Regions from separate parts of the Homo sapiens genome. Here regions 1, 2 and 4 are each linked to region 3. The links come from fine-mapping of genetic effects on gene expression. A gene starts in region 3. Each other region holds a variant in brackets. All regions are shown on one strand. Distances are between the middles of the regions. Region 1 overlaps HMGXB4 (HMG-box containing 4). Region 2 overlaps TOM1 (target of myb1 membrane trafficking protein). Region 3 holds the start of TOM1 (target of myb1 membrane trafficking protein). Region 4 overlaps MCM5 (minichromosome maintenance complex component 5).

Evidence for each region. PIP is the estimated chance that this variant, and not a neighbour inherited with it, causes the effect.
Region 1: its variant is the best candidate, but not a certain one, in a credible set for the expression of TOM1 in whole blood (INTERVAL, PIP 0.66).
Region 2: its variant is the best candidate, but not a certain one, in a credible set for the expression of TOM1 in whole blood (INTERVAL, PIP 0.87).
Region 4: its variant is the best candidate, but not a certain one, in a credible set for the expression of TOM1 in whole blood (INTERVAL, PIP 0.53).

What each region holds. Positions count from the first base shown.
Region 1 is chr22:35,268,498-35,273,644 of GRCh38, reverse strand. All of the region lies in intron 5 of HMGXB4 (HMG-box containing 4), which reads right to left. Among named protein-coding and RNA genes, the nearest start is that of HMGXB4, 14 kb to the right of the region's middle. The variant T/C (reference allele first, on the strand shown) is at 2,177.
Region 2 is chr22:35,325,823-35,330,969 of GRCh38, reverse strand. It overlaps TOM1 (target of myb1 membrane trafficking protein), which reads right to left. Exons shown (of 15, transcript NM_005488.3): 7 at 3,583-3,699; 8 at 490-623. Among named protein-coding and RNA genes, the nearest start is that of MIR3909, 7.2 kb to the left of the region's middle. RefSeq lists enhancers at 110-610, 2,100-2,394. The variant C/T (reference allele first, on the strand shown) is at 2,677.
Region 3 is chr22:35,296,942-35,302,088 of GRCh38, reverse strand. TOM1 (target of myb1 membrane trafficking protein) reads right to left here and starts at 2,195. Exons shown (of 15, transcript NM_005488.3): 1 at 2,109-2,195. The coding sequence starts at 2,160. RefSeq lists enhancers at 530-1,051, 1,462-1,621, 1,575-2,097, 2,022-2,171, 2,098-2,620.
Region 4 is chr22:35,405,748-35,410,894 of GRCh38, reverse strand. MCM5 (minichromosome maintenance complex component 5) reads right to left here. Exons shown (of 17, transcript NM_006739.4): 5 at 4,170-4,342; 6 at 2,332-2,487; 7 at 1-151. Among named protein-coding and RNA genes, the nearest start is that of MCM5, 8.2 kb to the right of the region's middle. RefSeq lists enhancers at 247-386, 467-686, 777-836. The variant T/C (reference allele first, on the strand shown) is at 2,136.

The sequences.
Region 1 (5,147 bases), 28 kb after region 3:
CTCCTTGCTTAGTCTAATATGTGAAATGAGTGGCTGAAAACAAAATTTTAAAAAGATGTTTTCAAATATATTTTGTGCTTTTGAAGAACTTAAGACGTAAGCGAAAGTAACTGTAACAGCTGACATTTACTAAGCCATGCCCTGTGCTAAGCATGTTACATGCACCACCTAATTTAATCTAACCCCAATTTACAAATGAGCAGAAGTGAGAAAGCAATCTCAGGAGAACAGACCTAGTAAGTGGCAGACCAGAGTAAGAATCCAAGTCTGCTGAATTTGAGTCAAAGATCTATCATGGCACGGAGTAACCATGTCTTAAAGTTGTGGAAAGGCATGTGGCATAGTGGAAAGATTATAGCTTCTTCCTCCGTCAGTGGGGCTAATGATAATTATTAATCAAGAGTGGTAACATTCGGAAAATGCCTAGGAGAGCCTGGCACTCAATAGATGGTAGTGACTAATTTCTACCATTTATTGTTGCTGTTACTTAGCCTCAGGTTTGCCAGAGAGAGAACTAATGTAACAGCATCACAAGTCTAGTTATGTTTCAGACTTTTGTTTATTAGATCAACAATGTCTGGGTGTGCCAGGCATTAGGCTACCTGGCCCTGCCTTAGGTTTAGAGAAAATGTGCATATTTTGGAAACACACAGATAACTAAAGGCATGTCTCTGAAATGGCAACATTACGGGATATTATTTATTTATTTTCTTGAGACACAGTCTCGCTGTTGCCCAGGCTGGAGGGCAGTGGCGTGATCTTGGCTCACTGCAACCTCCGCCTCCCGGGTTCAAGCGATTCTCCTGCCTCAGCCTCCTGAGTAGCTGGGATTACAGGCACGCGCCACCACGCCTGGCTAATTTTTGTACTTTTAGTAGAGATGGGGTTTCACCAAGTTGGTCAGGCTAGTCTTGAACTCCTGACCTCATGATCCACCCACCTTGGCCTCCCAAAGTGCTGGATTACAGGTGTGAGCCACCACGCCTGGCTATTATTTTAAGTGACAAAAAAATGGGCTTTTATTTGGGGTAAAACCAAAAGTAAGGTATATTTAAAATGTAACTGTATCCTGCTCCTCCTATATAAATGAAAAGCTTCCACTGCAATGAGATGATCTTTAGTGGGAAATCATCAAGATATTACCATATAATTTCTCTACTCTTCCTTAGAATGCAGGACTCAAAACCAGTAAAACCAACCAACCAACCAAACAAAAACCACCTCCAAAACAACTGAAAGGCTACTTTTCACCCAGGAAATAGTGTAATTTCCCTTCTTTGTGTCAGTCAAAATTCTCAAGTAAGAGCCCACCGCTGCTGCGTTCACTTCCACACCGCTCACTCTTTCCTCAACCCCTGATCCAGCTCCATTCCTACCTACTGCACTTGAACTCCTTGGCCTCTCTAGCATGAGATTGTTCTACTCTTGAAACTGTTTTTCTCCTCCCTTCTGTGTTTCTCCTCCAACATAGCCGCCCCCTCTTCCTTCTCTTATATAAATGCCCCTGTATAAGTGTTCTACAAAATTCTGCTCTGAGCTCAATTTCCTCTTATCCATTTACCTATTTCATTTATCACACATGAACACCCAATTTCTCACCCAAGTTCCAGCCAAATTCTGGGTCTTGAACTTCCATTGCCACTGAGATGATTATAATATTTATTGAATGCTCACTAATGTGCTGAGCATTGTGCAAAGACAAAGTTCTCCAATGTTCTTGGTTCACAGTGCTTATGTGGGTTTTCAATGTGGTAGTTGCTTTTTACCTCTAGAGCACACACACTTGGCTTTGAAAAGATATGGCACTACTGAAAAGAATGTAACATACATTGTTGAAACTGGGAATTACTTTGAACTAGTAGTTCGTAAGGTATCTGAGAGATGTCAAGTATTGTTGTTTGTCTCAAAATGTATTTAAAATATCAAGCGTTGTCCTGGTGAGTCTGATGTGGCGTCCCAGAGCGCCTTGGCACACCGAGGCCCTGAACACTTCCGCATGTATTGCCTCATTTAATCCTCACAACCCTAGGAAGCAAGTCTGTTATCCTCAACTTAGAGATGGAGTTGTTCTGTAACTTATCCAACATCACATTGTTTGTAAGTGGGTGAATAGAGCCAGGAATTGAACTCAGGTGGGTTCCACAGCCCACGCTCTCAACGACTTAGCTATGTTGAA[T/C]CTCCCGATCTCAATTAACTTATCTTCTTCTCCCAAACCAGCTATTCTTCTCACCTTCTCTATTTTTATTAGAGTCCTGGTCCTAGAATCTAAGGTAGAAGGGGTGCACAGAGGCCTTTGGCATTTCTACCAGTAGTTTCTCCAGTCTCTGCTCACTGTAGGTTGAAGAAACACTACTCCTAAATCATTCTTTTCTATCTCTGGGTGGACTTTGTCCCTGACTTTTTATTTATTTTTTTTGAGACAGGGTCTTGTCATATTGCCCAGCTGGTTGTGAACTCCTGGGTTCAAGCAATACTCCTGCCTCACCCTCCTAAGTAGCTGAAACTCAGGTGCTTGCCACCATGCCTGGCTAATTAAAAAAAAAAAAATTAAGAGGTAGAGTCTTGCTGTATCACCTAGGTTGGTCTCAAACTCTTGGGCTTGAGTGATCCCACCTCAGCCTCCCAAGTAGCTGGGATTACAGGTGCATGCCATTGCGCCTGCCTGTCCCTGACTTTTATACAGTTCTTTTTTACAGTGAAACAAAACCCAGGAAAATATATTTTTAAAAAGCTTTATAGGAATTTTTTATGCACAAATCAGGTTTAAAAACCACAGTATATACACTATAAATATTTGTTGGAGAAATAAATGATTAAATTCAGATTATGACTACTTCAGATTTTTTGGACAGCCACAATCAAAGATATTAACTCTTAATAAGGTTTTTGCTATAAATTAAAATTCATTTTTCACTAGCAACTGCTAGCCACATGGGCAAATTATAGATAAGTCCTTAACTTTGAAGAGCTTACTATTTTTCCAACGTTATCTAGGTTCAAAGCTGAAGAGATATTTCTTAGACTCATTTATGTTTCTGGCTTCCCAGATACAAGCCCACTAGGTCAGCGGTCCTCAACCTTTTTGGCACCGGGTACCGGTTTCGTGGAAAACAATTTTTCCATGGACCTGGGGCAGGGGTAGGGGCAGAGTTCGGGATAATTCAAGTGCATTCATTACATTATGCCTTTTATTTCTATTAGTATTACATTGTAACATATAATGAAATAATTATACAACTCACCATCATGTAGAATCAGTGGGAGCCCTGAGCTTATTTTCTTCCAACTAGATGGTCCCATCTGGGGGTGATGGGAGACAGTGACAGATCATCGGGCATTAGATTCTCATAAGGAACCTGCTGGGGTTTGTGCTCCTATGAGAATCTAATGCCGCTGCTAATCTGACAGGAGGTGGAGCTCAGGCAGTAATGTGAGCGACAGGGAGTGGCTGTAAATAGAGATGAAGCTTCAATGGCTTGCCCGCCACTCAACTCCTGCTATGTGGCTGGTTCCCCACAGGCCGCGGACGGCTACTGGTCTGTGGTCTGGGGACTGGGGACCCCTGCTGTAGGTAGATCTTGTCAATTTTTCCTTCAGAGCCTCTCTTGAATCAACCTCTTCAATTTTATTTCTCTCAAGCCTTTTTTTTTTCTTCTTCTCTTTAAAAGAGACAGGGTCTTGCTCTGTCAACCAGGTTAGAGTGCAGTGGCACAATCACAACTCACAGAAGCTTTGAACTCCTGGGTTCAACTGATCCTCCCACTTCAGCCTCAGGAGTAGCTGGGACTCCAGTCATGCGTCACCACACCTGGATCTTGCTAGATTGCCCAGGCCAGCCTTGAACTCTTGGACTCAAGCGATCCTCCTGTCTCTTAGATTTTCATTACTAACCTTCTGGACTATAGTAACTCCCTTGGTTATTCGTCTCTCCCTACTCTAATCCACCTTGTACAACTCTATCATTTTATTCTTATCATTTAGATCATAAATAAACCTTGCTTATAAACCCCAAACTGCCTGCTGCCAAGTCCTTTACTTTGGCATTTAAGATTCTCTACAATTTGCTCCCAACCTACCTTTTCAGTACTATGTTTTCATCCACATATTCATTCGACATATACTTACAAAGTGCTTATTAAGGACATTGAAGAGTTGAAGATACTATAAGGTGGTAAAGGAGCTTACATTCTGCCCCAAGCAGACAGTGCTGCTAAGTTAAAGAAATTGGGTGTAGCCCCTTCTATGAATTCTATTTTGTTTGTTTGTTTTGAGACAGTCTCACACTGTCACCCAGGCTGGAGTACAGTGGCACAATCTCGGCTCACTGCAGCCTCTGCCTCCCAAGTTCAAGCAATTCTCCTGCCTCTGCCTCCAGAGCAGCTGAGATTACAGGCGCATGCCACCACACCCAGATAATTTTTGTATTTTTAGTAGAAATGGGGGTTTCACCATGTTGGCCAGGCTGGTCTCCAACTCCTGACCTCAAGTGATCTACCTGCCTCTGCTTCCCAAACTGCTGGGATTACAGGTGTGAGCCACTGCACCCAGCTCCTTCTATGAATTCTAAGCATCAGTCTTCCCTTATAGTCTTTAATAAGGGAAACAGAATATGTACAAAGATAATGCCAATATAAGGAAGAAAATAAGTGCAGTAAGACAGCAAGGTAATATGGGAGTTTAGACGTTAATTCTAATGAGGGGTGTACAGAATGTCTTAGAAGAGGTGGCATTTGATTAGGTCTTGCAAAGAGGGCAGAGCTTCAATATGTAAGAAGAGGAAGGTCACTGTAAAAAATGAGCAAAGGAATAGAGGTAAGAATGTATGGGAAACAAGTCTGATTTCCATACAGTGTATGTTTAATAGACTAATAAGAGGTAAAGCTGAAAAGGGAGGATTAGGCTAAATCCAGACACTTAATGAATGTTTGGCTAAGGTTTCAACTTACCTGATATTTATTCCTTTGACAAGTATTTACTGACTGTCTACAATAGGCCAGATGGCAGGTTATACACTAGGGATAGCAAGACAGACGTGGTCCTGGTCCTCTTGGAGCTTAGAGTCTACCAAAAAAGCAGTAAGAATCCACTGAAGATGCAGAACACAGGACTGCCGTCATCAAGGTGCTACTTAAGATTAAGATTACTCT
Region 2 (5,147 bases), 29 kb before region 3:
GTTCTGTTGGGAGACATCAGTTTCACTTTTCTCTGGATTCTGAAAGCTACCCATTTAATAAAGATTATTATCCTAACAAATTCTTTTTCTGCCTAAGTTAGCCAGAAATGTTTTGTGTAGCTTGCAGCAGTGAAGTCACTTGTCTAAGGCCCCAGAACCAGGAAGTGGTGGAGTGGGCGAGGACACACCAGGCCAGTCTGGTTGCAGGGCCGTGCTCTCAGCTGTGACCTGTGACCATCTCCCAGGGCTGGACTTGGGCACAGGCAGCAGCGCTAACCCTGGAAAGGAGATACAGGGCGGCTGGAAGGAGGGGCCCTCATAAACATCCTGGAAGAAGACAGCTGAGGGCACAGGCCCTTAGGAGCCTGCCTTGTGTTTGAGAGGAGGACGAGAGAAGGCTCAGATGGCATGAGACCAGGAGAACAGGGAGGAAGGGAAGGGAGAGGGTTGGGGCAGTAGGCCAGAGGCCAGGGGAGGTGCTGGGGCTACCGTTCATGGCGCAGGAACACATTGTTGAGATTGTCATTGACGATGAGCAGCTCCTCTGTCAGCTGCTCATTGGCGATCTGAGGGATGAGCTCCAGGACCCGCTGCTGCATGGCTCGGCACGTGCGGTTGAGCTCCTGCCAGGAAAGGAAGTGAGGCAACCACAGTCACATGACTCAGAGTGAGGCCGTCTCTTTTTTTTTTTGTGAGACGGAGCTCTGTCGCCCAGGCTGGAGTGCAGTGGTGCGATCTTGGCTCACTGCAAGCTGTGTCCTGGGTTCATGCCATTCTCCTGCCTCAGCCTCCCAAGTAGCTGGGACTACAGGCGTCTGCCACCACGCCTGGCTAATTTTTTTTTTTGTAGTTTTAGTAGAGACGGGGTTTCGCCATATTAGCCAGGGTGGTCTCGATCTCCTGACCTCACGATCTGCCTGCCTCGGCCTCCCAAAGTGCTGGGATTACAGGCGTGAGCCACCGCGCCTGGCCAAGTGAGGCCATCTCTAATGCACGGGCCTCCAGCCCCTGCACAAGCCTTGGAGGAGGGTGAGGTGCCCAAACTGGACTTCAAGGTTCCACGGAACAGCTTTTTGGGTTCTACAAACATGAACTTGAACTTCACTTCCAAGTGTTAGATGCTAAAATTTAATCCACAGGAAACCATCAACATGTCCAACTGTGCTGCCGGTTTAACTTGGCTTCGTGCAGATTCCAGAATAAAGGTTGTGCCACCATCTTTGCTTAGTCAAAAAAAAACTGAGTCTGCAAAGGGGGCTGGCTGAACAAACCACAACTTCTGGGGGTATGCTGTGATTTTTGCAACCAAAGCATACAGAATGAACTAGATGACTGCAACCATTAGCCACAAACCTCGATTTCGAGTTTTTGCCTCACTTTTCTCACTGCCTGATTTTTTGTCTTTTTAAACAAACTTTTAGCTTTGGAATAATTTTAGATTTACAGAAGAGATGCAAAGATAGTACCACAAGTTCCCATATACCCTTGACCCTGGCTTCCCCTTAGTCTGGCATTTGTCAAAACTGGTAAACTACCATTAAACATTAAAACTGGTAAAATACTATTAACTAAACTGCGGACTTTATTCAGGTTTCACTAGTTTTTCCTCTAATGTCCTTTGTTTGTTCTAGGATCCTACACTGCATTTAGTTATCACGTCACCGACTTTTAACCACTAGGTGTCATATTTAAACTTATGAAAAATAAAAAAAATGGCTACACCCGGTGGCTCGTGCCTATAATCCCAGCACTTGGGGAGGCCGAGGCGGGTGGATCACCTGAGGTCAGGAGTTCAAGACCAGCCTGGCCAACAAGGTGAAACCCTGTGTCTACTAATAATACAAAAATTAGCCGGGCATGGTGGTGTATGCCTATAATCCCAGCTGCTTGGAAGGCTGAGGCAGGAGAATAGCTTGAACCCAAGAGGCAGAGGCTGCGGTGAGCCGAGATCGCGCCACTGCACTCCAGCCTGGGTGACAGAGCAAGACTCCGTCTCAAAAAAAATAAAAAAATAAAAAACCATAGCCATATGGGTTTTCATTTTTAAGATTGGTCAATTATTTCTTCAGGTACCTGCCACCAGGTGAAGGTTCCTGGGTCACGGCAGGTGCCTGGGTCCTGAGGTCCAGGGAGCTGCCCGGCATTGCCGACTGTGGCCTCACGCCAGCACGCCTTTCTCCTGGAGGCAACGCTGAGGCTCGGCACTGCCCAGTGTTTATTTTGGCTGTCATGTGGACCCTGTCCCCTGCCCCCTCCAAGGTCAGGCCTCCGGGATTTCCTCATCGCCCTTAGCACGGGGACAGGGCGGGTGCCTTTCAACATCCTGTGGGCTCCCCTCCTGCTCTTATGACCAAGCACACGGTGGCTTTGCTTCTGCTTCCCTGCTGGCCCCTCTCAAGAGCAGAAGAGCAGCACTTGGAGCCAGGCCCCCGGGTTCAAATCGCAGCTCTGCTACTTACCAGCCATATAACCCTGGACGTGTTATCTGATCTCCCTATGCCTATTTCCTGACCTGGAAAATGGGGGTGGTCAGGATTACGTGAGCGATGTGAACCAAGTGTCCACATATAGCCCGGGACACGGGAAGTGCCCAGTGCATGGGAGCTGTCCCTGCATCCACCTTGCTCAGCCTTCTGAGTCCCCAGACTGCTCACATCTCATGGCCTTGGCTTGGGG[C/T]GTGCGAGGCTGCCTGCGCAGTCTTCTCTCTTTCGGAGCCCTTACTGGGTTTCAAGTTTGTGTATTCACTGGACTCTGAGGCTACTCCTTTTCTCCCCACCCTGCACCACCAAGTGAGGACCCCTGCAGAGTCAGCTCGGTCAGGCACACAGACACGGTGGCGAGGAAGACACAGCGCTGCCCTCAAGGAGCCTGAGGCCTGGTGGACGAGCAGTAGGAACTCGAACAGTTACACGAAGCGCTCTGTCTCCTCATGGATTCTGGTGACTCCTGGGCCTTGGGGATTCCTAGCTCTCTTGGTGCCTCTATGACTGGCCTCCATGGGGAGGGTGCTTTTTGCCAAATTCAGTGTCCCTTCTGCTCCAGTGACCCCCAATCTGGGCTGGGGCCGTGGGAATACCATGTGACACCCGGGAGCAGGAACCACTAGCTCCACCTGCCTTGGCTCCCCAAGATCAGTGGCTGGCGCATCTCAAGGCTGGCACCACCCTCTCACACCTGCCTGCTGAGTCTCGGATTCTGAATGGTGTAAATCTCACCTTCCAGCTTTTTCTCAGGACCCCTTACTGGGTGCTTTACTCTGTACCAGGCACAAGCCTGCGTGTTTTTCATGCAATACCTTATTTAACTCACATCAAACTTGTGCCATGAAGGCTATTGTTAGAGCAATCTTACAGATGAGGAAACTGAGGCCAGGGGGGCTACTTTGTTCAAACCAGAAAGTGGTAGAGCTGCGATCTGATTCCAATCTGATGGCGTCCAAAGTCCCTGGTGGTAACATGTCCCCAACTGTGACCAAGGAGTATGGAGTAAGCCATGAAGACTGTCATGAGGATTGGGAAAGAATGCATGTGGGCAGCTGGGCAGGAGTCATCTGAGCCCCAGGGGGTGGTGCCACCTGCTCACCTGCAGCAGCTCCAGGTCTGCGGGCTCGGCCTGGGTGGGCACCAGCTCCGTCAGCATCTCCGACATCACCCTCACGTTCCCACTCACCATCTCCAGCTCACTGCGCAGCTTCCCAATCTGAAACACACAGTTGATCGTGGTGAGAGAAGCCAGGGTTCTGGGGCCCATGTTACTCACAGCGACAGAACCCAGTACCACCAACCCTGGGTGCAGCACCAGGGAGCCGACCTCCCAGCAGCCTCTCTAGGCAGCCTCCCTCCTGGCTCCCAAAGTGACAGCTCTGCACTAGAGGCCTGCCCCACCCCTTCTACAGACCCCTCACAGAGGCGCTACCAACCGTTACCATCTCCACACCGGAATGAGCCACCACGTGTGGCTGGAAGACTCCAGCATCTCCTGGGTCTAACACAGCAGCTAACAAGGCCCTGGAGGGTGGCTCCCCACAAGGCGGGGAGGGACGCTGCAGGCCCTCTCTCTCTCTCCCACTAGAGGACTGGGATTCTGCCCTCTCTCTCTCCTCCTAGAGGACTGGGATTCCGCCCTCTCTCCTAGAAGACTGGGATCCCCCCCTCTCTCTCCTCCTAGAGGACTGGGATCCCACCCTCTCTCCTCCTAGAGGACTGGGATCCCGCCGTCTCTCTCCTCCTAGAGGACTGGGATCCCGCCCTCTCTCCTCCTAGAGGACTGGGATTCCGTCCTCTCTCTCTCCTCCTAGAGGACTGGGATTCCACCCTCTCTCTCCTCCTAGTGGACTGGGCTTCTGCCCTCTTTCTCCTCCTAGTGGACTGGGATTTTGTCCTGTTTCTGGTCTATTTTGGTGTCCCAGGCTCATCTAAGGATAGTCCTTGCCCTGTACCCCACCTTGAATATGAAACTCAGATTTAGCACTTGTTCCAAGGGATGTGGGCAGGTTTTCAATGGTCAAAGGGTTCCAAGGAGTTGGGCTTGGGGAAACATTTTCAATAAAGCTGCAGTCTCCTCAAAGAGGTTAGCTTGTGAAAGGCCATTGGTATAAGGATCTTATGCTGTGGGACCTTGTAGGGTGTTTAATGCCCTCATGCACACTGGGAATGCCTGGGAAAAGATCAGTCTGAAAGCTTCTAAGATTTATTTGACTGAAGAACCTTTTTATGTTTTGAGAAATGCTGGTACATTCTAAATCATGTGGCTGAGTTATAGTTGATTTCAGAGTGTCACTATATACATTCATGATTGTGACAGCAGCTACCATTTATAGACTACCTAATAAGTGCCAAGCATTGAACATATATTGCTAACTTAATTTTTTACCATGGTAGACATCAATATCCCTGCTTTTATAGATGAAGAAATGGAGTGTAGAGACTAGTAGTATATCCACTATGGTTCACTGACACCTTCCAAAACCTGCAAAATGTTTGATCTATTTGGCTTACTTAATGAACACTCTTGGTATGAGTGAGTGGAAAAACTACTGATCACAAACCCCATGTATCCAAATCAGATGGGACTTAATTACAGAGGAGTCTGGGAGTAACATCACTGCACACCTGATGTCTTAACATGTCCCAAGAGACAAAAGGGGA
Region 3 (5,147 bases):
CCCAAGAAAGGCAACGCTTCAAGGTAAGAAGAGAAGTTTGCTTTGATTAGCTGAAATCCAGAACCCAGGTGAGCTTTTCCAGAAAGCCTTAAGAGTATGTGGCTGACTTTGAAGCCAGGTCTTTTATTTACTTGTTTATTTTTAAGTAGTAAGTCTTAAACTTGGCATGTGATAAAAGCAGTGGTTTCTGTAGTCAGAGAAATATAGATGAGAGGAGAGCTGCCTTCTCTTTTCAGCTCCAAAAAACCATGACTCACTGTGGGGTGGGTGTGTGTCCGGGGAGGGCAGGGGTCCTTTGAGAGGGCAGTTCCTCTCCCTGGTTCAGGAGCTTCCTGGTGTGTAAATCCTGGACTGCCACCTCCCCCTTGGAGAGCATTGATTACAAAACCTCGGAAGAGCCACCGACAGCCACGGTGGCGATTACAACACAGAGCCGGGTCGACAAGCTTTCGTGAGGTTTCGCAAGACACTAAGAATGGAAAATATGTCTCATCTTAAAGTTTTCCCAGTCTGGACTTAAGACGAAAAGTCGTCATCAAAAAAGATGAAGAGTAATTTCACGGTAATGCGATGGTTTCTTCATGCAAGAATGCGGAACACCCAAACCATCCTCCGGAGAAGTGTGGCTGTTTGGGTGAAGGCATGTCGGTTCTCATGGTGTTGGTGCCCAAGAATGAGCACCTATGAGATCTACTGCCAAGCGATTTCCAGGGATTCCTAACCTTCACTTGGTGATCTCAGGAACAACGTGTGTGTGTAAATACATATAATATATATGTATGTGTATGTATATGTATGTTTGTATGTGTATATTTTTATATATATGTGTGCGTGTGTGTGTGTGTATGTGTATGTGTTTCAAGAGATGGGCTCTCCCTGCGTCGTCCAGGCTGGAGTACAGTGGCGCCATCAGGGCTCACTGCAGCCCTGACCTCCCAGATCCAATAAATCCTCCCAGCTCTGCCTACCGAGTGGCTGGGTGCACAGGCACGCACCACCACGCCCGGCTAATTTCTGTATTTTTTTTTTTTTTTTTTTTTGTAGAGACGGGGTCTCGCCATGTTGCCCAGGCTGGTCTCGAACTCCTGGGCTCAAGCGATCTGCCCGCCTTGGCCTCCCAAAGTGCTGGGATTACAGGCGGGAGCCACCGTGCCCAGCCCAGTGATAATAAATATTACAACTGTTTTTTTTTATATGGCACTGGCCATGTACCAGGCATTGTTCTAAGTATTTCACATTTATTAAGGAATTTAATCTTCACAACAAGCCCACGGAGGTGGGGACCATTATTGCCCGCCAACTACAGGTGAGGAAACCTCGGCCCAGGGAGGCTGCGTCACAGAACTGTGAGTATCCTGTCACCAGGGTGCAGAGAACCACGGACCAGCAGACAGGCGCCAGGTGCCCTGGGCTTGGCTTGGCCCGAGTTCCCGGCTGCCCCACCTACGGAGCACCGAGATGGGCTGACCAGGAGGGTTTGTCCGACCACTGTCTGCTCAGGTTCTGAGAGTCTGTGCGGGTCCATTTGAGGTTGGGTCGAGAAAAGAGCCCAGGCGGACACGTCCTGAGACCCGGGTCTGTGAGGCCTGGCCGCGGGCTGTCCGGCGCTGGGCCCCTCTGGCCAGTTGGCCCCAAGACGCCAAGCCCGGGGCTTCGCGGTCCTGGGAGAAGGGACTTCTAGCCCTTCTCAGGTGTCTGTGTCCGGAGGGCCCGGTGAGCCAGGAAGGAGCTGGCCAGAGCCCAGGCGGCGGGACCCAGCAGAGTGGCCCAGCCACTGCCAACCACGCAGTCCCTTTAACCACGAAAACTTTCTCCCTCGATTGGGGACCCCAGCAGACGCACATTGGCTGCGCCGTGGGCATCCGGACCCACCCTCTCTCCTTACCTACTGGCTGTCATATACATCTATCACAAGCCAAGGCTTCCTAATGGCCCAAGTTCTTGTCAATCAAGAGTGGGAGGAAAGCTGGGCGGAGCCAGGTCGGAGAGCTACACGCCAGCCTCCTTGCCCTCCCTGCCTCCGTGACTAGGCACCCGGAGGCTTCCCAGGGGACCGAAGCTGGGTGCGGAGCACCGGGGCGGAGCTGTGGGGGGCTCCAGGGACTCACCGATGCGCTGTCCCACTGGAGAGCTGAACGGGTTCCCCAGGAGAAAGTCCATTGCTGCTACCGCCGCTGCCACCAACCCCGGGAATCAGCTGACAGCAACCGCCAGCGCCACCGACCCGTCACGTGACGCACTCGGAGGCCGGCGAGGAGGCGTGGGCGGGGCGGTGGCACCGCGAAGCTCGACCACAAGCCCCGCCCTGAGACGCCAGGGTCCCGCCCCCGAGGCGGAGGGCGATGACCTCACTGCGGCTTGCTCGGCGGCGGCGGGCGTCACACACGATGTAGGGTCTGGGGTCGGGGCCCGGGAAGCGCGGTCCTCTTTAAGCCACGCCCCTGACCTTTTAGGGCGAGGTCTAAAGGACCCTTTACACATTTGGGAAACTGGGTCGTAGACCAGGGAAGTGACTTGGGTGAGTTACACAGAAGCCGAGACTCTTAGGGTCATAGCCCTTAGTCCTTGGGACCTCACTGTGACTGCACACCTACCCTGGGTGACAGCCTCTCTGGGCTGTTGTCTCCTTGTCCCGGTAAGACTCTTCCTGTTTGATGTCAAGGTCTCCCCGCTCCAAGATGCACCCTGCTCGCAGCCCAAATTATCTTACCTTAAATCAGAGGCAAGGGCAAGGGGTTTGTCATCTGTTGAGACTGAGAGGCAATTTAATGAATTGCAGCGCAATTCCCTCTAGCGCCCAGGATGGCAAAAAGCACAGATGTAGTCACGAGTGGGGCTTTAATACCCGTCTCTGCCATAAATTTACTGTGTGAGCCAAACATAGCTCCCATTTTCTCTAGATACTGGAATTAGATCAAGGACTCGTAACCATTTTTAAAAAATATTTTATTTAGGTCACAGTCTCCTTTGAGAATTTGACAAAAGCCATGAGCCTTTCTGAAGAAAAAAGGCAGCGATACAATTTTGCTTATAACCTCAGGGAGTTTCTGGGGTCCCTGAAGTACAACCGTGGACCCCAAGCTAAGAATCTCAAAGGCCTTTCCCAGCGTTGTGATTCTAATCTCTTCAGCCTTCCTGGCTGTGTGTGGTGTGTCTGCTGACACCTACACACTAGATACCTATCTATGGGTTATGACCTTTTCTTCTGGCATGTACTCCAAAAATACAATAACCATGGCCTTAGTAGTCTGGCTACTGTGGGTGCTTAAGTACTTATTGTGATGTTTGTGGTTTTTAAATCTGAAAGGCTAGTAAATTGACTGCACAAATTTTGGATGACAGAAAACCTAAATTAAGCAAGGTGTGGTGGCTCACGCCTGTAATCCCAACATTTTGGGAGGCTGAGGCAGGTGGATCACCTGAGGTCAGGCATTCAAAACAAGCCTAGCCAACATGGTAAAATGCCGTCTCTACTAAAAATACAAAAATTAGCCAGGTGTGGTGGTACACGCCTGTAGTCCCAGCTACTTGGGAGGCTGAGGCATGAGAATTGCTTGGACCCAGGGGGGCAGAGATTGCAGTGAGCTGAGATCGTGCCACTGCACTCCAGCCTGGGTGACAGAGTAAGGCTGTGTCTTAAAAAAAAAAACAAACCTAAATTAGAACTTAATCACCTCTGTAGATTCACTTGTTTGAGCAGCCATGGGGTCCGATGTCTTTACTGTACAATATAAAAACTGCTTTGAAGTGTTTCCACAACACTCATGAGACCTGTTCACAAATGCCTTTGCCCCCACGAGTCTGGATGTCCCTGGGGGCTGGGCTACTATTTCTGTTTTGCTCCCCACTATTGTCTAACCCAGTAACTAGCACATGAAAGCTTAAATAGATCTACGTTTCAGTAATGGTATTTGGAGTATAAGCGGGGAGAAGGCCATTTAAGATGACCTTCAGGTCAAGGCACTTTCCATGTCTTTCTTCACTTAACCTTATTGCTTGGTCATATGGAGTTATGTTTAGCATGAACTTCTTTTGGATTCTTCCATTAACCTTTATTTATTTATTTTTAGAGGCAAAGTCTCACTATGTTGCCCAGGCTGGTCCTTGAACTTCTGAGCTCAAGTGATCCTCCCACCTCAGCCTCCCAAAGCCCTGGGTTACAGGCATGAGCCACCATCTCTGGCCCTTCCTTTAAGCTTTTAACAAGTTCTTGTAAACTTTATTCATGGTAAAAAAAAAAAAAAAAAAAAACAAAAAAAAACAAAAACAGAGACAACTCATATGCCCCCAAACAGGAAGTGGAATCATAAACTCCATGCAGGCTGGGCACGGTGGCTCACACCTGTAATCACAGCACTTTGGGAGACCCAGGCAGGCAGATCACGAAGTCAGGAGATCAAGACCATCCTGGCTAACACGGTGAAACCCCATCTCTACTAAAAAAATAGAAAAAATTAGCTGGGCGTGGTGGTGGGCGCCGTGGTGGGCGCCTGTAGTCCCAGCTACTCGGGAGGCTGAGGCAGGAGAATGGCGTGAACCTGGTAGGCGGAGCTTGCAGTGAGCAGAGATTGCACCACTGCACTCCAGCCTGGGAGACAGAGCGAGACTCCGTCTCAAAAAAAAAAAGAAAAACAACTCCATGCAAACTGATTACTATATAGCTATTGAAACAGAAATGGAAGTATATGGATTTATTTATTTATTTATTTTTAAAGACAGAGTCTCTGTCACCCAGGCTGGCGTACAGTGGTACAACTGTAGCTCACCGTAGCCCTGATCTCCTGGGCTCAAGTGTCTTCCCACTTCAGCCTCTTGAGTAGGTGGGACTGCAGATGCATGCCACCATACCTGGCTAATATCTTTTAGTTTTTGTAGAGATGGGGTTTTGCTATATTCTCCAGGCTGGTCTCAAACACCTGGCCACAAATGATCCTCCTGACTTAGTCTCCCAAAGTGCTGGGATTACAGACACGAGCCACTGCACCTGGCCAGTATATGGATTTTATCAACATAGTAGATAGGGATGTAAATGGCAAACATTAAAGTTAGTACAAAACTGATTAAAACTGTCTTTAAAAAGTGTGCTAATAAGGAGCAAACTGATTTAGTAAAAAGTGTTTCAATTTACTTTTTAAGTGTTTTAGTAA
Region 4 (5,147 bases), 110 kb before region 3:
CACCTGGATGCCCAGGACACGGATGTAGGAGCTTCGGATGCCCACGCCCACCCTGTCACGGCCCCTGCTGGTAGTCAGGCCAAACTTCTTGATGGAGTAGATGCCCATGATGGTAACCCTGTTCCCAGGGACGACCTTGTCACACAGGTACCTGAGAGGAGGGTAGAGGAGAAAGGAGAAAAGCTGAGATTCTGACTTGGACAGCAAGTCTCTGATTCCACCCATGCCCAGGACACGCAGGGTCCACTGCAGCATTTTTGCCACAGGCACCACATGCTGAGCTGGCTCCAGCCCCACGGAGCCCAGAGAACGGCCTCTCTCCCCACGTCACTCAGCCCATGCTCAGCTGCTTGGAGGATGGTGTTGCCCACAGTGACAGCCAAACAGAAAGGCAGGTGGTGGCCTGACTCTCGCTGAACTCGCTAACTCATTTGTACGCTGGTTTAGGAGGCTTAGTGCCAGCCCACAGAGCCCTCCAAAAGCCCCATCTCCACGTGTCTGCTGTCAGCTCACTGTGTGGTGCCCTTTAGCCTCTCAGGGCAAGACTTCCTCTTCACGCCCCCCAGCCTCCTTGAGGGGCCACTCGCCCTTTTTGCCTCTTCATGGCTCTGTGAGCTCATTTTGCCTCTGGGTTTTCATTTCCTGTTTTCAAAATGAGATGTTGAAACAGGGAAGTCTCCAAGTCCCCCAGTCAGAGACAGGGTGGTGTGGAGGGACACTTAGTCGCTGTGTGACCTCAACGAAGTCATTGCACCTCTGAGCCTAGGGGGATGACGAAGTGGCCTGCCTCTCATGTTGTGGAGTCAGGTGAGGCAGCAGACATAGAAGTGCTTTATACCATCAGGCATCACAGCTCCAGAAAAGACCATCACCGTCACTCCATGAGCCTCCAACTCCCCTCTTCCCATACCCACTTCGTAAGTTTTCAGGATTCATGAACTGCTTGGAAAATCATACATCCTGATTACGTAATCTGCATGAAGGAATTGTGCTAAACACCACATGCATTTTCAAGCAGCCCTCTGAGAGATTAAGGACTGTCCTTATCCCCATTTTACTGATGAGGAAACTGAAGCTTGACAAAGTCACATAACTTGCCCAGGGAGCAAGAGCCTGACCCCTACATACTCTGTTGCCACTAATGAAGTTAACAGAAGCTACAGATCCGCTCTCCTCAGAACATCTGCATGCAATTTCAGGATATGCAAGCCCAGGTTAGAACCCTAATCAAAGATCTCAAAACCTTCCACCCAGGTTACTATGAGGGGCCCAAGCTCAGTACCCTCTCCCCCTCAGTAGAATCTTTTTTGTTTTCCTTTTTGAGACAGGGTCTCGCTCTGTCACCCAGGCTAGAGTGGAGTGGTGTAATCACAGCTCACTGCAACCTCAACCTTCTGGGGTCAAGTGATTCTCCCACCTCAGCCTCCCAAGTAGCTGGGATTATAGGTGTCTGCCCCAACACCCAGCTAATAAATTTTTTTTTTTTAGATACAGGGTCTCAGTATGTTGCCCAGGCTGGTCTTGAACTCCTGGCCTCAAGCAATCCTCCTGTCTCAGCCGCTCCAAGTGCTGGGATTACAGGCATGAGCCACCGTGGCTGTTCAGCAGGATCTTAACAGAAAGCCTGGGGTACGCTGGGCGCAGTAGCTCACGCCTGTAATCCACGCACTCTGGGAGGCCAAGGCGGGCGGATCATGAGGTCAGGAGATCGAGACCATCCTGGCTAACAAGGTGAAACCTCATCTCTACTAAAAAATACAAAAAATTAGCTGGGCATGGTGGAGGGCGCCTGTAGTCCCAGCTACTCGGGAGGCTGAGGCCGGAGAATGGCATTAACCCAGGAGGTGGAGCTTGCAGTGAGCCGAGATCGCGCCACTGCACTCCAGCCTGGGCTACAGAGCCAGACTCCGTCTCAAAAAAAAAAAGAAAGCCTGGGGTAGGAGGTGGGGTGTCAGGCTGGGAAGAGGCTTTGCCAGCTATTGGTTATCTAGCTGTGCATCCTGGGCCTCTTATCCTAAGAAGAACACAGACTTTGGAAAGCAATGCACATAGGCTGAAAGCCCGGCTCTCCTCCACACAGGAAGTCATTTAATCTCTCCAAGTTACATTTCCTCATCTGCAAAATGGGGCTGACA[T/C]GCCCCTGCAGATTATGGAAAGACGAGATGAGAGGAACTTATGGAAGCATTAGGCACAGAGCAGGTGCTCTGCAACTGGCCACCTTCTCCACCCTACTCACCCTGCTCCAGATGACCCACTCCCAACACTCGGGTTAGGGCCACAGCTGGGACATCCACCGTCGTAGATGCCCACCTCCCAGCCCGTCTGCCTCACCTGTCGCAGTAGAGCTGCATGTGTCTGGGCATCTCCCCGTGGGGGACTGCATCAGGCAGCTCCTGCAGCTTCAGGGTCTGGAAGTCCACGCATTTGCATTTGTCGGGCATGATGAAGTACGGGTCCAATGGGCATTTGGGGCGCCCAGCCTGATCTCTGTACAAGGTAAGGGAAAAGAGTCACCAAAGCTACCTGGAGAATCCAAAGGCAGGGCTCATTCATCCCAGGAGCCAGCAAGGAGACGTTGCCAGCGGCAATTTATGGGGGTCTCCAGAATAAGCTGGAGATAAGCCAGGCAGGCAACGCTGCCTGGAGGTAAGAAAGGAAGGCAACACTGACGGACCTAGCACTGGATTAAGAGTCAAGGGAACTGCTTGAGGCTGGGTCCTTCCATTAACTTGCTGAGAGGAGGCAGACAGGTCACACTCGGTCTTCTTGCAGGATCATGGTGTCCTCATGGGTGAAGAGCTAGTTCATCAATTCTCTTACTAAAGCCCCACTCAAATCCCAAGATCTTTTCCAGTGGGATTCTAGGCAGTTCTAGACCATTCTGAGGGTCTAAGCCTCTACGTATCCCTAGGTAATTATGTCATTATTCAATAGATATTATAGCAACATAAAGAAGTAAACATCATAGCAAAACCTACTATGTGTCTGACACTATTCCAGGTGCAGGGGGCACAGCACTGAACAAAAAGGTCCCTGCTCTTGTGGAGCCTAAGTTCCTATCAAGGGAGGCTGAAAAGACATACAAGCAAACAATCATATTAAAGAGTGACAGCTACATGCTGTGAAGAAAAGTAAAAAAGTAGGCAGGTGTGGGAGAGACGAGGTACGTGCACACCAAACTGAAGATGAAGGGTTGGGCAAGATGCCCCTGGTAAGGGGACATGTGAAGAGAAGCCTGAAGAAGTGAGGACACAGACTATGGTAGCTTGAGGAACAGCACTCCCAGTAGAGGAAACAGCAAGGTCAAAGGCAGTGAGACTGGGGGTAGTCAGTGTATTCCAGAAACAGGAAGGAGGCAGTGAGGCCGGGCCTGGAGAGAGGAGGGGCAGCGAGGCCTGGGGAAGCCAGGAGCAGATCGTGGTGGGCTGTGCAGGACTTGACTAAGAAGTAAATGACTGGACCACCTGAGTGTCAAGGGACACCTGGCTGCTGGGTGGAAAACAGACTGAGGGGGTGGAGGGTGGACGCGGGGGATCAGGGAGGAGGTAGCGTGCCTCTCCAAGTGAGAGATGTCAACAGCATGGAATGAGGCAGCTGTGCCACAGGTGGATGGGAAGCTGAGGAGGCACCAGCGAAGGAGCCAAGAAAGAGCAGCCAGTGAAGAGGGTGGGGTTCCTTCAGACTGGGGGCAGCAAACATTTTCTAGAAAGGGCCGGAGGATGTGCATTCCAGGTTCTGCCAGCCAAGAGGCCACATACCCTGCCTTTGTAGTGCGAAACCAGCTGTGGGCAATACTTAAATGAACGAACGTGTTCCTGGGCCATAGGGTCAGCAGGCTAGATCTGGCCTAGTGAGCAAACCATAGTTTGCTTCAGAAGATTCCAAGTAGACTCATTACCCTGGACTGCTTTTCCCTCCCAACCCTGGGTTCCCTACAACGCTGTCTGGGTATCCTGGTGAGACAGAAGTCACCAATGTAGAGGGACCCTGTTCATGGTGTCTCAGAGCCACAGGGCATCAGATCTGTGCCAATCCTAAGGGCACACCCCTGCCCAGCCCATCCCAGTGGATCTCTAGAAGCAGCTGCAGGCAGTGCTTGCTACTTGTTCTCATCCTTTCTGATCTTCACTCAGGTCACCTCCCACAGTCCCTCTGGGCCACAGACTCACGTGTTGCACTTCCTGGGCAGGGCATAGCCCTCGAGGCCAGGGCGCATGGCAATGTTGGTGAGGGTGTTGCGGCAGCTGCGGCACTGGATAGAGATGCGGGTGGCCTTGGCACGGACCGCAGAGGCCGCGATGATGATGCCAGGGATCTTCACCAGGTGTGACATCATGTCCGACTGTAATAGAGCCATCGGGAAGCTTGTTGGTTAAGGGGAGCCAGGACGCATCTGAGATATGCCAGTAAATATCCTGGGCAGGAGCCTGGAGGAGGTGGGCACAGAGCTGCAGGGAGGGCCACAGCTCTTCTGTTCCGCTCAAAAAATGCTTCCAGAGCATCCACCCAGTGCCAGGCTATCTGGACCCTGGGGTTCAGAGGAGCCTCAGGCACAGCTCCTGCTTTTAAAGACCTCGCAGCACAATTGGGGGGGGAGGTGGCAGGGCAAGAGATACACTAAGCACATTTCACTACAAAGTGGCAGGTGCCAGGAGAGAGACCTGACCCCAGCTCTGATGGCGACATCCTTGGACCTGTAGAGTACAACACAGAACAAACCTGGGAGGCAGGGGCCCACATTCTAGTTCAAGTTCTGTCAAAACCTGCTGTGTGGTCTTCTGTCTGGGTCACTTCTCTTTGAGCCTCAGTTTCCCCATCTTAATGACTATTCCCACACCGGACAATAAGGCAGTAATATTTTTTCTTTTTTCTTTTTTTTTTTTTGAGACAGAGTCTTGCTGTGTCGCCAAGGCTGGAGTGCAATGGCAGGATCTCGGCTTACTGCAACCTCCGCCTCCCGGGTTCAAGCGATTCTCCTGCCTCAGCCTCCCAAGTAGCTGGGATTACAGGTAACTGCCACCATGTCCAGCTAACTTTTTGTATTTTTAGTAGAGACGGGGTTTCACTATGTTGGCCAGGCTGGTCTCGAACTCTTGACCTCAGGCAATTCACTGGCCTCGGCCTCCCAAAATGCTGGGATTACAGGC